4 linked regions of the Homo sapiens genome follow. The protein of the gene in region 4 interacts with the protein of the main gene of each other region in a biochemical or structural test. Each region holds a gene or a part of one and is shown on either strand. Other genes may lie near its edges.

Evidence for each region. Proteins that work in one complex are often made in the same cells at the same time.
Region 1: the proteins of PARD3B (region 4) and KCNB1 interact in a test that uses a peptide from one of them, tested with the Homo sapiens proteins (one large-scale study listed by IntAct).
Region 2: the proteins of PARD3B (region 4) and CLDN20 interact in a test that uses a peptide from one of them, tested with the Homo sapiens proteins (one large-scale study listed by IntAct).
Region 3: the proteins of PARD3B (region 4) and ZNF599 interact in a test that uses a peptide from one of them, tested with the Homo sapiens proteins (one large-scale study listed by IntAct).

The regions. Positions count from the first base shown.
Region 1 is NC_000020.11:49,371,169-49,374,668, forward strand, and holds part of KCNB1 (potassium voltage-gated channel subfamily B member 1), read right to left. Parts: coding exon 1,815-3,500; 3' UTR 1-1,814. UniProt on the Homo sapiens protein: Voltage-gated potassium channel that mediates transmembrane potassium transport in excitable membranes, primarily in the brain, but also in the pancreas and cardiovascular system.
Region 2 is NC_000006.12:155,262,651-155,266,812, reverse strand, and holds the start of CLDN20 (claudin-20 precursor), read right to left. Parts: upstream 2,801-4,162; 5' UTR 2,525-2,800; intron 1-2,524. UniProt on the Homo sapiens protein: Plays a major role in tight junction-specific obliteration of the intercellular space, through calcium-independent cell-adhesion activity.
Region 3 is NC_000019.10:34,766,716-34,770,215, forward strand, and holds part of ZNF599 (zinc finger protein 599), read right to left. Parts: intron 2,841-3,500; coding exon 2,714-2,840; intron 697-2,713; coding exon 601-696; intron 1-600. UniProt on the Homo sapiens protein: May be involved in transcriptional regulation.
Region 4 is NC_000002.12:205,297,475-205,300,974, reverse strand, and holds part of PARD3B (partitioning defective 3 homolog B), read right to left. Parts: intron 446-3,500; coding exon 239-445; intron 1-238. UniProt on the Homo sapiens protein: Putative adapter protein involved in asymmetrical cell division and cell polarization processes. May play a role in the formation of epithelial tight junctions.

The sequences.
Region 1 (3,500 bases), on a different chromosome or scaffold from region 4:
ATGCCTGTTACTGTATTGAGGATAGACAGAACTACACTATTGTACTTGGGACATCATCCATCAACATTACATTAAGAGAACAACATTGTTCCATTGTACTACAGACAGGCAGACCAATAACATGTCATCTTTACTGACAGGTGAGCCAACACTATAGCATTGTATTCATCAGTGGTTCAACCTAATGCCACTGTACTGAGGAATGGCCAACAACACCATGCTGTTGGACTAAAAGCAGGCAGGACAATGCCAGGTCATCAAACGAGGACAGGAAAACCAACACCAAGAAATACACCAGAACCACTCAGGATGCACACAAATACTTATTGCTTTTGTCTGTACTGGCTGCATCGATGGCTGCAGGAAGGAGAGTTGAGCTTTTAGTACAGACAGTGACACTGAAAAACCAATAGCTGGTTGACAAGAAAGAGAACAGAGTAAAACACCCAATGTCCAACTGTCACTGTGTCCTTTTGAGATGTGCATGTCTCCTGTATACTTGACTTCATGAGAGGCCCCACCCAAGGGGCAAGAACCCCTCCTGACCCATGAGGGTTAAGGGAAGGTTTCAGAGGGGCAGGGAAGGAGCCCACAGACTTTGATATGGCAGACAGTAATACCAGCACAATATTACCCATGCTGGCCAGAAATGGGCAGGTAGCAACAATCCAACTACAGTCCCAACAATTGGGCTATGGGAAATAGTGCTTATTTTAAAGTGCAAGATGTTGACACTGTCCCTGGCAGAACCTATTTTTGAAAAACATAAAGTGCTTTTTATTTTAACTTTTTTTTTTTTAACTTGAAAACCACAGAAAACAAAACAGAATTTCTATTATAGTAGGTACTTTCCTTGCTGCAGCAGGAATTATTCAGTCTGAACTGGGCATTTCAATGCGTGGTATTTTTTTCCTTTCATTTTTGCAAGTAAAAAAATCATATTTTTATGCTGTTCTTCAGTAACACACAGTCTCTTTGAATAAACTATTTCTTTTGCATATTTGACACTTGCATATCTTTTGAGTCTACACTAGTGATGTAAAGAAAGCGTGTTCCTCCTCCAACCCTAAAACAATGCTCTGAGTTCATGCTGTTGGCTGGGTGCCCACCTTCTGAACCCTTCCCAGATTGCCAGGGGGCAATTAGAATTGAGTACAAGTGGTGCAACTCACCCTGATGGTATCTCAAAATAAAATCTCAGGTACTATGAAATACCGAAGTCAATGAAGACATTTGAGTAAGGGTTTTGCGCTGGGATCGTGGCTTATGGCGCAGAGACTTCCCCATGACCAATCATTCCCTGTAGCTGTCTAACAGTGGAATCCATCCAGGAGGTGATGGACAGGTGTTCCTAGGGGTGGCTGGGCAACATTCAATACCAAATTGGTCAACCCACTCTTTCAACACCAGCCGCTTGTTCCAGCATCCTTCTCTAGCTGAAGCCAGGAGGACTGTCAATGTTGCCCTCCGAGGCTGAGATGGAAAGCCACGAGAGAATGGGGAGTATGTGGCCTCGGTCCTGTCTAAAGTGGTGGTAGTGGTGGCTGTGAGTTCCACTCATGTCATCTCCCAAAGAGGGCTATAGAGTTGTTACAAGGAGGTGCTGTGCCCTATGGCTTGGCCAACTTCATGCTGATGGACCTGTCATGGCTCTCAAGGTCTTAGGGAGCCTTCTCTGGAGTCTCTCTTCTCTCTGAGGGCTTTACAGGGCCTTTCTGTTCCAGAGTTCATGCAGAAAAGCTCTGTGGCAGGTAAGCTGAACAGCTCTCCTCTTTGGACCTCACCCAAAAGTCTCTCCTCCAAGGCAGGGCAGTTCAGATGCTCTGATCTCGTGTGCTTCCATGGGCTCCTCCCCCTGGCAACACACGGACGTCAGGGGAGATGTGGTTCTCAAGTTTGCACTTTTCCTGACCACTGGGGCCTTTTCCAGTCAATGCTTCTGTGGAGTAAATACAGTTCTGCCTTAAGAACTTAGGGGAGGTGGGTAAAGGGGAGCTTTCAAAGTGGTTTTTCTCCGATCTTGTCCCCGTGCTGAACTTCGGACTGGTGCTCCCAGGGAGGCTTTTGGGGGGGCTGGAGTCCACACTGTAGAGCAGCTGTCCCTCATCATCTGTGTCTGCGTCAATGTACTGGTGGACACCCGCCTCAAAGTTGAACGCTATTGCTGTGTGTTTCTCAGGAGACCGGGGGGGTGTCTTAGCACTTGCTGTGGTGTAGATGGAGGACTCTGGGCTCAGCACAGCCTTGTCCAAAAGCGTGGCACACTCCAGTCCAGCGACAGCAGCCGCAGCACTCCCCCGGTTCCTGAGAGGGTCATGGTACATCCCTAGAACGGGGAGGAGTGGACTGGGGTCACCCTCCATGAAGTTGACTTTAAGTGCTCGGAGCTTCAAAGGGTTGTTAGTTTTCATGGAACTCTTGGGGCTCTCGATGAAGAAACTAGAGTGCTGGCTGGCATCAGGGCTGGGGTTGGCCTCCACAAACCTACCACCACTGGCACCCAGAGCTCCCCGCCAGCCCACTTCTGGGGCTGTGCTGCCCCCAGTCTTGCTGGGGAGTGATGTCAAAGGGCTGTGGGAGAATCTGGTGGCCTCAGGGAAGTCTGTGGCACAGCTAATGAAACTATCAATGCTTGACATACTTCGCATGTCAATGACCCCTTCTGTGCGAGTGGGCAGAGGGGCTACGGGGCTGGGGATACTCTCCATTTCAAGTTCTTCCTTTGGTTTGCTCTGTGCTGCTGACTCCTTGGTATTGAGGATGGGTTGGGATTGGGTCTTGGCCATCTTATTGTACATGTCTTCCAACTGCTGAACGTTCAGGTGCTGAGGACTAGAAGACGATCTGGCTTTTTCAGGGGATCCCTGTTCCTTGGTTTCAAAGGACTTACTTGAGCTGGTTTCAGACAGTGTCCTCTTTGTCCATTTCCATTTGTTAGGAGACAAGTGGTTATCTTGTACTTTGTCTTTCTTACCCATATTCTCCCCATTTTTCTCAACCACAATGTCCATCATCTCAATGCTCCGGGCAAAAGCATCCTTCATGTTCATGGATACGATGCTGCCATTCCTCTTGGCTCTCTCCAGAGCCTCTCGCCGTTTGATTGCTTTCTCCTGTCTCTTCTGCTCCTTATAGAACTCAGAGAAGTTATTGACGATGATGGGGATGGGAAGAGCAATCACCAGGACTCCTGCAATGCAGCAGAGTCCCCCAACAATTTTCCCCAGGAGAGTCTTGGGGTAGATGTCTCCATACCCAACAGTAGTCATGGTGATGGTGGCCCACCAGAAAGAGGCTGGGATGCTTTTGAACTTGGTGTCGTCCTCATCCTTCTCAGCAAAGAAGACAAGGCTGGAGAAGATCATAATGCCCATGGCAAGGAAGAGGATGAGCAAGCCCAACTCATTGTAGCTCCTCCGCAAAGTGAAGCCCAGAGACTGGAGGCCAGTGGAGTGGCGTGCAAGCTTAAGGATGCGGAGAATTCGCATGATGCGGAAGAT
Region 2 (4,162 bases), on a different chromosome or scaffold from region 4:
TGCAGTGGCACGATCTCAGCTCACTGCAAGCTCCGCCTCCCAGGCTCACGCCATTCTCCTGCCTCAGCCTCCCAAGTAGCGGGGACTACAGGCGGCCGCCACCACGCCTGGCTAATTTTTTGTATTTTTTAGTAGAGACGGGGTTTCACCGTGTTAGCCAGGATGGTCTCGATCTCCTGACCTCATGATTCGCCCGCTTTGGCCTTCCAAAGTGCTGGGATTACAGGTGTGAGCCACAGCGCCCAGCCTCATTTGGTCATTCTTAACTGTGAGCGAGACTGGGGAAGTTTGTATCTGGCTTTTCATCCCCCCTGGTGAGCTGTATCCAGCAGGGACTCAGGCTGGCTTTGTGGGTGTCACAGGGCTCTAGCTGCACTTCTAGTGAATTTAATCTCCAGGATTTGAGTTGACTGTGTGATACTTTCCCAAGCAACTAGGATTGTTCCCCAAACCTGTGATTCTCATTTCTGCCCACACGAGGGCTTTGGAAAAGCCCCAAGAGGCTCAGGCCCAACCCAGTGGCTTTTATTTAATTTTCTGGGATGGAGCCCCATCCTTGTATTTTTCAAATGCTGTCCATTTAATTCTAATGAAAAGTTGGGGTTCTGAATTTTAAAAAAAATGTTGTGATGGTTAACACTGAGTGTCAACTTGATTGGATTGAAGGATACAAAGTATTGATCCTGGGTGTATCTGTGAGGGTGTTGTCAAAGGAGATTAACATTTGAGTCAGTGAGGTGGGGAAGGTAGACCCGCCCTCAATCTGGGTGGGCACCATCTAATCAGCTGCCGGCTCAGCTAGAATATAAGTGGGCAGAAAAATGTGAAAAGAGAGACTGGCTTAGCCTCCCAGCCCACATCTTTTCTCACGTGCTGGATGCTTCCTATCCTCAAACATTGGACTCCCAAGTTCTTCAGTTTTGGAACTTGGACTGGCTCTCCTTGCTTCTCAGCCTGCAGATGGCCTATTGTGGGACCTTGTGATCATGTGAGTTAATACTTAATAAACTCTTCTTTATATATATATTTAATATTTACATATTATATATTAAATATATATTATATATTATATATAATATATATTTATATTATATATAAATATATTTAATATTTATATTTAATAAACTCATATATATATATTCCATTAGTTCTGTCCCTCTAGAGAACCCTAATACAAATGTTTTTTCTTCTTTGCTTTCCATTCAATCTTGAAAATAATGACAGTTCAGAGTAAGATAAAATAGTTACCTGTTCCAGCCCTACAAATTTAAAGTGATTTGACCTAATCCTAAAATAATGTTCTTCTTCTGTCCCAGCCTTAGGAAATTAACAGTATCAGCTATGAATATACGAATGTACTGACCAAGCATCTTCAGTGTGATGTCTAGTCCGTTTGATAATTATGGTTTATTATGAATTACTATATTTGTATGCATGTTCTATTTCTCAGTCTTTTAATAATATTACTAGCAGCATTTATCAAGTGCCTTCTGAGTTTGTTTAGATTGAGAGCCTCTCTGAGGTCCTGTCTTCTCTCTGAGGGACGGGAGTTGCTCAGGACCTGCAGCGCTGGGGTCCAGACCCTGGCAGTTGCCAATGTGCTGCCACACCCATGGCCCGGCTGGGCAGCCTCGAAGCTGCCTCAGGCAGCTCCTGCCACATCCACAAACCCAAGCGGGAGCACAGCCCGGGACAGGAAACACAGGGCACGTCCAGATGCTGCTGCTTCACAGACACCAAGGGCGTGGTTTGTGGAAAAGGCCTAGTTTTAGGAAGGTCTTTTCCCTCTGATCATCCAGGAACTCCAGATTAAATGTAACAGAAAACCTTTATACAACAATTGTCAGTTCTTGTTCCATTTGTGCTTTCTTGAGGATTACACGTGCATCTCCCTGAAATTGTTTAATCTCTTGGGACCAAGAGACACTGACTCATCTTGTTGTTGTTATTACTAATAGGTGTAATTTACATACATACATATGTACATTTACATAATTTACACAGTAAAAAAACTCTTCATCCCCCTCACCACATTTCTTAGTCTTATTTCTCTTGTGATCTGAGTTTGCTGTCATTCTCTTGGCCTCAGTTCTTCCTACCACATCTGCTCTGAGAGGAAACACTATGTGACTGTTTAAAATCTGTTCTTTTTTTATGATCCCAAGAAGAAAGAGAAAAAAACAAAGATCTGTAGGAAGAAAAAAGGGTGAGGACAGAACTTCTGCAGAAATAAATATTGTTACAATAACACAAATTGTAAACTTTAGGATAGGTACTGACCGTGTAGTTGATCTTTATTGAACCAGTTGGTTTGAAATACTTAGAATGCTGTCAGCTTTAAGGTTTTACAGTGGAAATTCTTTCCTTAAATTGGCTTTTGGACATGGATCACAGGTAGAGTGAACCAATTCCAGAAAATGTGATCTACATTCACATTTGTCAGTATTTTCTTTTTCTATGACATGCATAATTATCATATCACAGGCATCAGTGACTTGCTGCCTCTACCTGGGATTCTCCTTACCTGGGAAAGTTGTAACCTCGAGGCCCGTGATGTCCTAAAGTGGACTGTCATTAGCTTGGTGGAGGTACTTGAAGAGCAAGCAGACACTGGAGGGTGGGGAAACCAAGCATCCGGAGGCACTCATCTTGCTCCGTTGTTTTACCCGACAGTGAAGTGGCTCTCCCAAGCCCCTGTCCTCCTGCGTTCCATTTTGTGGTGCCTATAGCCTGCAAGATGCCATATGCTTCCTGTTCCCAACCACCCAGGTCTGCCCGTGATCATCCCACTTCGAACTTTGAATCCTTCTTATATGTTGTTCTTTAAAGTCTTACTGATTATTCCCTGTGGTCTTTTTTTTTTTTTTCACTAGCCCTTCTGTTGTCTTAAGTTATGGCTGTGTCTTGGCTATTTACATAGTAACTTCCTCATCATTTTTTCATCTCCACTATCTTGTCCTCTAATGGTCTTGAACACCGTGAGAGTGTTGAATGAAGACCCTTTTGTAGACAGTGGCCAGCATTGTTTCTGTGTCTGTGCATGTGGTCGTGACTTAGCTTTTGGGCATATGATAATCATCAGGAACTGAGTTGTACGTCTCTTCAGTGTCCTCTGTATATCATGTTGATTACAGTTCTCAGTTGTAATATCTAATATCTAAGATTTAAGATTTAATATCTCCTTAGCCCGGGTCCCTTGTGAGTTCCAAGTGCTGCTCTGAGCTGATAACCAGTCACGTCCTAGACACCCTGGCCTGGAAACTAGGACATCTGCCTCGGGCCTGTTATGGCCAAGGCTGCTAACACTGAGAAACAGTCTTAGCTTGTTACAGCGTTGACGTATAGGGTTAGAAAGGCAAATATTTAAATTCATTTTAAATCCTTTCATTTGAAATTTTAGTAGGTCATTTTGGTATACTGATGGACTGAGTTTGGAAAAGGCTGGCGGCATTAAACTAGAATATTTTAAGTACTTCTGATGCCTTTGTACTGATTTCTTTTTTGTAATCAAACCCATTAATAGACTTAAAACTCAAGGAAGAAAAAATAATACTTGTAATTTTAAATAAGCATTCAATTATAAGTAAAAAACATTTTTGTATTCGTTACCATAGTTACCAAGCAGCTTTCCTATAGTTCTAGAAAAAAATGGGCTCCATCATTCAGAGTAATTCTGAAAGGTGCCTTTGGGGGAAAGGGAGAGGAAGGGGTGGTACAGGAGAGGTCCTGGCCGTCCCAGAAGCAGGAGACATAACTGGAAGAGCTTTGTTGACGCTGAGTTTTACAGAATCTCCCACTAAATAGTAACTGCATTTGTGAGGGGAATTCTCTTTTAGCCGTGACATAATATAAGCCAACTTAACAGAGTATTGGAATTGTATTCAAACTTTAGAAGTCGACGCTATAGTTTACATGGGGTACTACTATATTTGTTCAGGGTTTTAAAACTTTATTTAAATCAAGCAAAAGTTAGACACTTCCTGTATTTGCAAATACCAACTATATCTCAAAGGAATGAAATCAGGCAAATAAAGATGAGGCCAAAATTTAAAATCTAAGGAAGCTGAAAGTGGCAGTTTCTGTACTGGAAGAGAGTGCATCTATCTCTGTATTTGTGCTTTTGGTCTTAATAGTTTGTAAGCCTTATGTAGAGTTTTGATAA
Region 3 (3,500 bases), on a different chromosome or scaffold from region 4:
CTTGGGTATAAAAAAGCTAAACCACATTTCCCAGCCTGATACAACATGTAGCCTAATACCCAGTTCTTGTGGATGAAATGTTAATGGAAGTGACTACTGCCCTTCTCTCCCATTCCTCTTGGCCGGGGCAACCTTAAAGCTGCATATTGACAACAGAATGCATGTGATCCATAAATAAATACAGGGTACACAGCTTTCCTGCTGACCCACATTGGGCTATGGCATGGATAAAAAAACAAAACAAAACGAAACTTAATCTGTTGAGTCACATGATTTTGGAGTTTATTTTTCAGAGAAGGTCATTAACTCAGCCTAACTTATATACCAAAGGCACAGTGACGTCACACAACCTCTCCAGAGTCATGAGGCTAGTGAGTGGCAAATCATTAAAGCCTAGAATCTGTCTCCTACCTAACATATTCCAACCTGAATAAAGGCAAAGAGTGTGTGACAGAAGTGGGAAGACGGGGGACCATGGGGTCAAGGGCTCCATGACTGCTCAAGACCACAAAATAGCTGCCCATGGCATTTCAGACACAGTGATGCCTGGGTGGTCTGCAGGCTGCCCTGATACCCGCTGCCAGACTCTCAGTCACCAACCTGCGCAGGTGCTTTGGGAGAGGCCTCTCTTCACTGTCCACAGTTCCTGTCCATGTTCCAGTAGATAGATCAGCTCTGGTTTGGGAACAGGATGCCCTGTGCATGGAGAAACAAATGGAGTATGGTGTACAGGGAAAGACAAAAAGAAAAGTCTGAGGTGTAAAGGAGTACATATATTTAACATACTGCAATGAAACCCCAGAAAGGGCCCTCCCCTGCCTCACCAAAAGTATTCCCTAATTAACCTAAGTCAGTAGGATTCAACCACCCTGTGCATCAAAACTACCTAGCAACACCCAGTTCCAAAAACAGAACAAATTAAACCAAATCTCTGAGCAGAAGGACTGAGTGCTGGTAGTTTTTAAAGCTCCCCAGGTGATTTTGGTGCCCATGATGGTTGAAAAACACAGGACTAAATCGCCTGATGAATGGCATCTATTGATAGTCAGTTGTGTGAGGCAGGCCAGTGACTGAAGCTGAACATGGAGGCCTACTGCCCCACAAGGATACTGGCCAGGGCCCTAGACCAAGGAGAGAAAGCAGACAGAGAACTGGGTTAGCATGGATTGGCACTGACCAAGCCAGGAGTCAGCAGCACCTCAGGGCTTCTCATTAGGTAAAGTAAGAAATTATTTTCAGGGTGAAACTGGCAGGAGGTGGTCTTCTTCCACATGCAGCCACACACATTTTGCCAACTGTGAAGGCTAAGACAGAAGACTCTGGAGAGAAGTCAATGACTGAGGCACCAGGACCCAGAAGCATCAACTGGAAAATCTTGTCCTGGCACGCATCCAGCTGTCACTTAGCAAATGTTCACCATAGGATTACGCACACTTACATGCCACATGCACACTCAGCAAATGTTCTGCCATATGCTTGGCACTGAGCTGGGTGATGAGCAGCATTAAAGGGGAATCAGGCCTGCCTTCATCTCTGTTAAGGAATCAAGCACCCTGCTCCCACAGGGATGCTGCTCATGTTGGTCCCTCCTCCTGGAATGCTGTTCCCCATACATCTCCTTTCGACAACTAATCACAGTTGTCATAAAATAACACCACGTTTACTTCATTAATGACTCATCCCTCGTGAGGACGCAGGACTGGGAGAGCCCTGTCGATGGTAACCATTTGAACAACTGGAATAAGTGAGACTTTGGGCCTCCATTCATATCTACTCAGACCAACTTCTGGGCAAACTGTCCATTAAAGGTTTAGGTGGGAGAGCATTTGGTATTTATTAATTTGTTAAATGTAACAAACACATGCAGAACACTTGCTATGTTTCCAGCTCTATTCTAAGCACTTTACACATATTAGTTACCTTGCTGTGACAGGTTACTATAAAAATGGCAAAATCAAAATGATAACAGGTCCCAGCAAGTTCCTGCTGCCTGCTTGAGGCTAGGAGTTTGAGGCTACTCTTTCTACTGAGGAGGAAATTCACCAACAGCTATGGGAGTGTTAAAGATTCAGCCCTAAGCCAACACTCAACATTCAAGAGACAGGAAAGAGAAAAGAAAAAAAGAACAGCTTTCTCAGATAGCATACATCCATGCCATTTGAGAATGTGTCTGTGCTCCCTTTCCATAATCATAATCATCTCCTGTAGCAGCAGAGGAGCAAGGCACAGGCCTTAGGAAGTAAGGGTTAACTGTGCAGGTGCTAGGAGCCAAAGAGACCTTTCAGCTGAGACTGTGTTGCTGAAAAAGATATAAGCAGCACTGATAACAAACACCTTCTTAGTGTCTGTGTCAATCACCCGCTGCTTGTAGAACCTCCCATTATCCACAGGTCCTGCTAACTGGGCTGTGAGGACATTTGACTCAACCAAGCTGGGCCAATTACCTCTTGTGGCAGTCTGGGATAAAGATGTCAGACTGAGGCCAGCTGTGCTAGACAGTGGGATAAAAGTGTTGAGGAGGACTGTGTTTCTTACATAACAATCTTTGATTGAGACACAGGGAAACCCAGCAAGAGGAGGTCAGACCACAACGTGCTGAGGCTGCAGGGATCAGGGAAGGTTGGGTTCTGAGGCTCCTGGACCAGCCATGCCTAGAAAGGGTGGATTCAAAGAGGCTGTGGGTCCCCTACATGGGAGGGTAATGAGGTCTTACCCAGTGAGACCAGGAGCCTGCAGGTCTCCAGCATCACCTCCTGGTACAGGGTCCTCTGGGCCAGGTCCAGGTGCCCCCATTCCTCTCCAGTGAAGGTCACAACCACGTCTTCAAATGATACTAATGCCTGGGAAGTCAAACAGAGGTGACAGGTGGCTGTGGAGCTATTAGGTGAAATTACAGCTCACTTCTTGGTTACTGGCAAAGGGTCCAGAGACCCTGAACCACTGAGCAACTCCTGAGAACCACTGGGCTCTGTGGAGGCAGATGGTGCCGCTGACAGAATACAAAGATGTGGGACAGAAAAGCCTCCTATGTTGGAAACCATTGGAAAATGATACAAGACAATGATAATCCCATCTGACTGTGAGGAGCAGACAGTAATGTCCTAGGACATTACAAGAATGGGGAAAAATAATAATTCAAACAATAATCACAGCAGCAGCAGCTGAGCCTCACTGGTCTGCACTGTTTGCCTGCACCTGAGGGCTTCACATGCTGTGTTCAAGCAACTAAAAGTCTCCAGGTCTGGAATCAGGCTCCTGAAGTTTAAATCCAGCCTCTTGAACCAACCTGCCAGATGTGTGACCTTGGAGAAGTCTCTTAATTTCTTGGAGCTCCAATTTCCACATCAATACATTAATAGTTCCCACTTCACCGAACTGTTGTGAAAATTAATGAGAAAATGTTCATAAAGCAAACACTGCAGTGCCCAGCATGTGTTACAATGTGTGTAAATTTCAATAGTCATCCTATAGCCCATGATGTAAATGTCATCATCTCCATT
Region 4 (3,500 bases):
GTGAAGGAGAACATTTATTTAGCCTTGCACTGTAAAATAAATTGCATATTGTGTTCTCCAATTCCATGTTCATTAAGCCAAAGGGCAAAACATATCAGGAAAATGAATTACTTTTAATATCAAAAATATAATTGTGATCCTTAAATCATTTTTTTCTGTAGTTGAGCACACATTCTTGCCCATGATTTGCAGATAATAATGAGATGAAGAAGCCATTTAAGGAAGCATATCATCCTACCAGCTTCTATTTCTTCAGGTCCATCGTAGGATTTGTCAATGGCTGCTCTAAAGCTCTCATTGCAGCCTCGGCCTCGAACCATGTGCGGCCGGGGCCTGTGAAAGGGAAGGTCATTCTTCCTGACCTCGGCCACTGCAGTCTGCAGACTCTCCAAGGAGCTGGACTTTTTCAAACCCAGAGTTGGACCAAAATCTTTGCTTGGAGATTCTGGAAAAGAAAGGGCAAAAGGTCACCCCTCTTCTAATGGGGCAGTGTGGTGTAATGCTATTGTTCTAAGAATATTTCTGTCTGGACATCCCAAAAAAGGGGTGTTAAGTGGGTGGGAGTTGGGGTTATACTCCAGCTTTGCCACCTTTTGTAACCTTGAACAAGTGGTTTGACTTCTCTGAGCCTCTGTTTCCTTTTCTAAAGCTGTGATAAAATTTAATATGACTATAGGTACATTTCTCTCTATGCAGAAGTGTATATGCATGTGTGTCTATAGGCATATACACACACACCTATGAATTTGAAAGGCTGTAGCTATTTATAGAGACTATGTATGTGAATGAGAGTGATTTCACATATGTGAGAATACCCACATACACACATGCATACTCACAGACACACACACAAACATACCAAGCACCTAACATGACGAGAGCTTCTCTTCCAGTATCGTCCTAGCACTCCCACACCTGACAGCTTTTATCATTGCCATGGTTGCTCATATGATTAGTAAGGAACATACTGGGCATGGAAATAAAAGAACATTGAAGTGACTGTGATTTTTCTAATTAAACACTTTACCTTACCCTATTGGCTATTAATGTATGGTAACTGCCATTTATTTAATCAATCAATCAAGCAAGCAAAGCAAGAAAGAAAACAACTTTTCTGTGTCGATGCTATAGTTCTGAATGTATTCCTATTTGGTATCTAGAAAAGAGGCAACCTTTTAATGCAATATAAAATTATAAAACAGAAAATATAGAGCACAACTGAATTTGAATCATTGCTTTTCTGGTATATAATGTTTTTCATTTGTGCGGTTTGCCTTGCCCTCTACCTGCCCCCTCCCACTCCATTCCTTGACCTCCATTCCCACCCCCAGCTAGTCTCTCAATTATCAATAACAGGATTAGGTTATATAAATATTAGCAGCATTATATATATATATTATATATATATATATAATATATAATATTAGCAGGATTATCTTTAAGACAGAAGGAATTCTATCAGGGCTCTTGTCTCTACAGTCAAAGCTTTTCCACCAGGGCCACAGCTCATGTTCCTTTCCAGTTACGAAGGAGACTACTGTCATGAAGTCTACTTGCATTTCTGGGAAAAAACGACTGTGTCATTTATCAATAGACAAGAGTACCTATTAAGAATTATGTATGTAAAGTACCTACTTCAATGTCTAGCACCTAGCAAGGCTCAATAAACGGCACTATCTTTTATTACTATCATCACTATTTTTGCTTCTATTATCACTGCCACTATGAACACTACTACTAGCAGCTGCACACAGCATTAAGGAATACAAAAGAAGTACAAAAAAGCACTGATGTATATATATACCTATGTGAAGTGAAATAGCAATACACACCTTTACCTATGATCCGAACGTGTTAAAAATAGTCAACATAATGAATAATCGTAATAGCTAATAATGCATGGAGTGCTTAGTCTGTGTTAAGCACTATTCTAAATGCCTCACCCACAGTAACTTACTATAATCCTTATAGTTGTGCTACTGGTACTACTTTTAGCCCCATTTTACAGATTCAGAAATTGAGGCACACAGCATTGACATAACTTGTCTAAAGTTAAACACTTAATAAGCATCCAGACCAGGAGCTGGGCCGAGGCAGCCTAGTTCCAGCTTTTCTGCTGTGTACCATGTACTTTACTGTCTAAAGATGTATTTGCTCTGCACCCTCTATTTGATTATGGTCAAACAACTTAAACTGCCCTACATTGTCCTCATTTCTAAAATAAGAATATTAGGCTAGATTAACCCTGGAGCCTCGTCAAGTAGGCAAACTGCAAAAATTGGATGTTGCGTTATAGTTTCATCATTAACTTATAGGAGACAACTTTGCACTTTGAACAATATACAGGATGACAATAAACACTAGATTTTATAAACCCTACTGGCTATTAATGTAGGGTAAGTGCAATTCAGTATTCAGTAAATTCAACAGAGTATATTCAATAAATGCAACAGAGATAAGACTAAGCAAAAAAAAAAATACAAAAAATTTCAGGGACAAATTTCAGGTGTTACTTGCAAGTCATAAATACTGAGGATATGTCACTATTAAATCCAGAAAGAGGCATATTTTTTATATTCCCAGGAAGGAAGATAAGTTGAAGAAACAGAAATTGAATAAGATGATTTCTGACAAGAAAACAAAAGGCATCACAGAGGTTTGGGTGTATAGAAGCAATAGTAAAAGCTTTGGAGTTTACAGAAAATATTTTATAATATCAGCCCCTAGGGATGTCTGACATGAAGTTTAGTGAAAACATGAAGATGAAAACTATCTGAGAAAGCCCTGATTCTCTGTCAGCAATAGTAACCATCTTTTATTTATTAATTGCCATTCAGGAGATTACATTAGAGCCCAAACTGTAAGCATTCACGTCAACGTTTAGCAATAAATTCCAGGGAACATGAAAGTGAATAAATCGTCCAAGATAGAAGGCACGTTATCTAAAAGGAGCTCATGTGAAGCTCAGCAAGAAGTCATAGCTAAGAAGAAACAAATACACTGTTCCTCATTCTAAGCAAACTGAACATTAAGGATTCATGGATTTTGCAAGATTAATAGAGTTGGCAATTAATTCACTCTATATAAATAGAAGTCACAAAGTAGAAGTACTAACTGATGTTGGGCAATATTACAACCTAACTCTATTGGATGTAATACATGGTAATATTAAAAGCAAAAAGGGTGGTTGAGTCCTTAGGTTGTAAATGTGGACTCTGGAGTTTTCAGGATTGGAAAAAAAATTCTATTTATTCCTGGAGAATGCACAGAATGTAGCTGTAGAGTAGGGACTCATGTTAGAGAAGAGAACCAAAATCAGGAAAGTCCTTATAAGGATTTACAGGTACAGTGAACTGACTGAACTGGGGGCTCTGACAAGCACCTTCTCCAGGGATCCCCATGTCTTTCATATGTTTGAGGGCTCCTACAGAAGGTCAAGGTTACCTGCTGTGTAAGGGATTATAATGTCAATTGAAAGGCATCAGTGTTAAATTCCAACA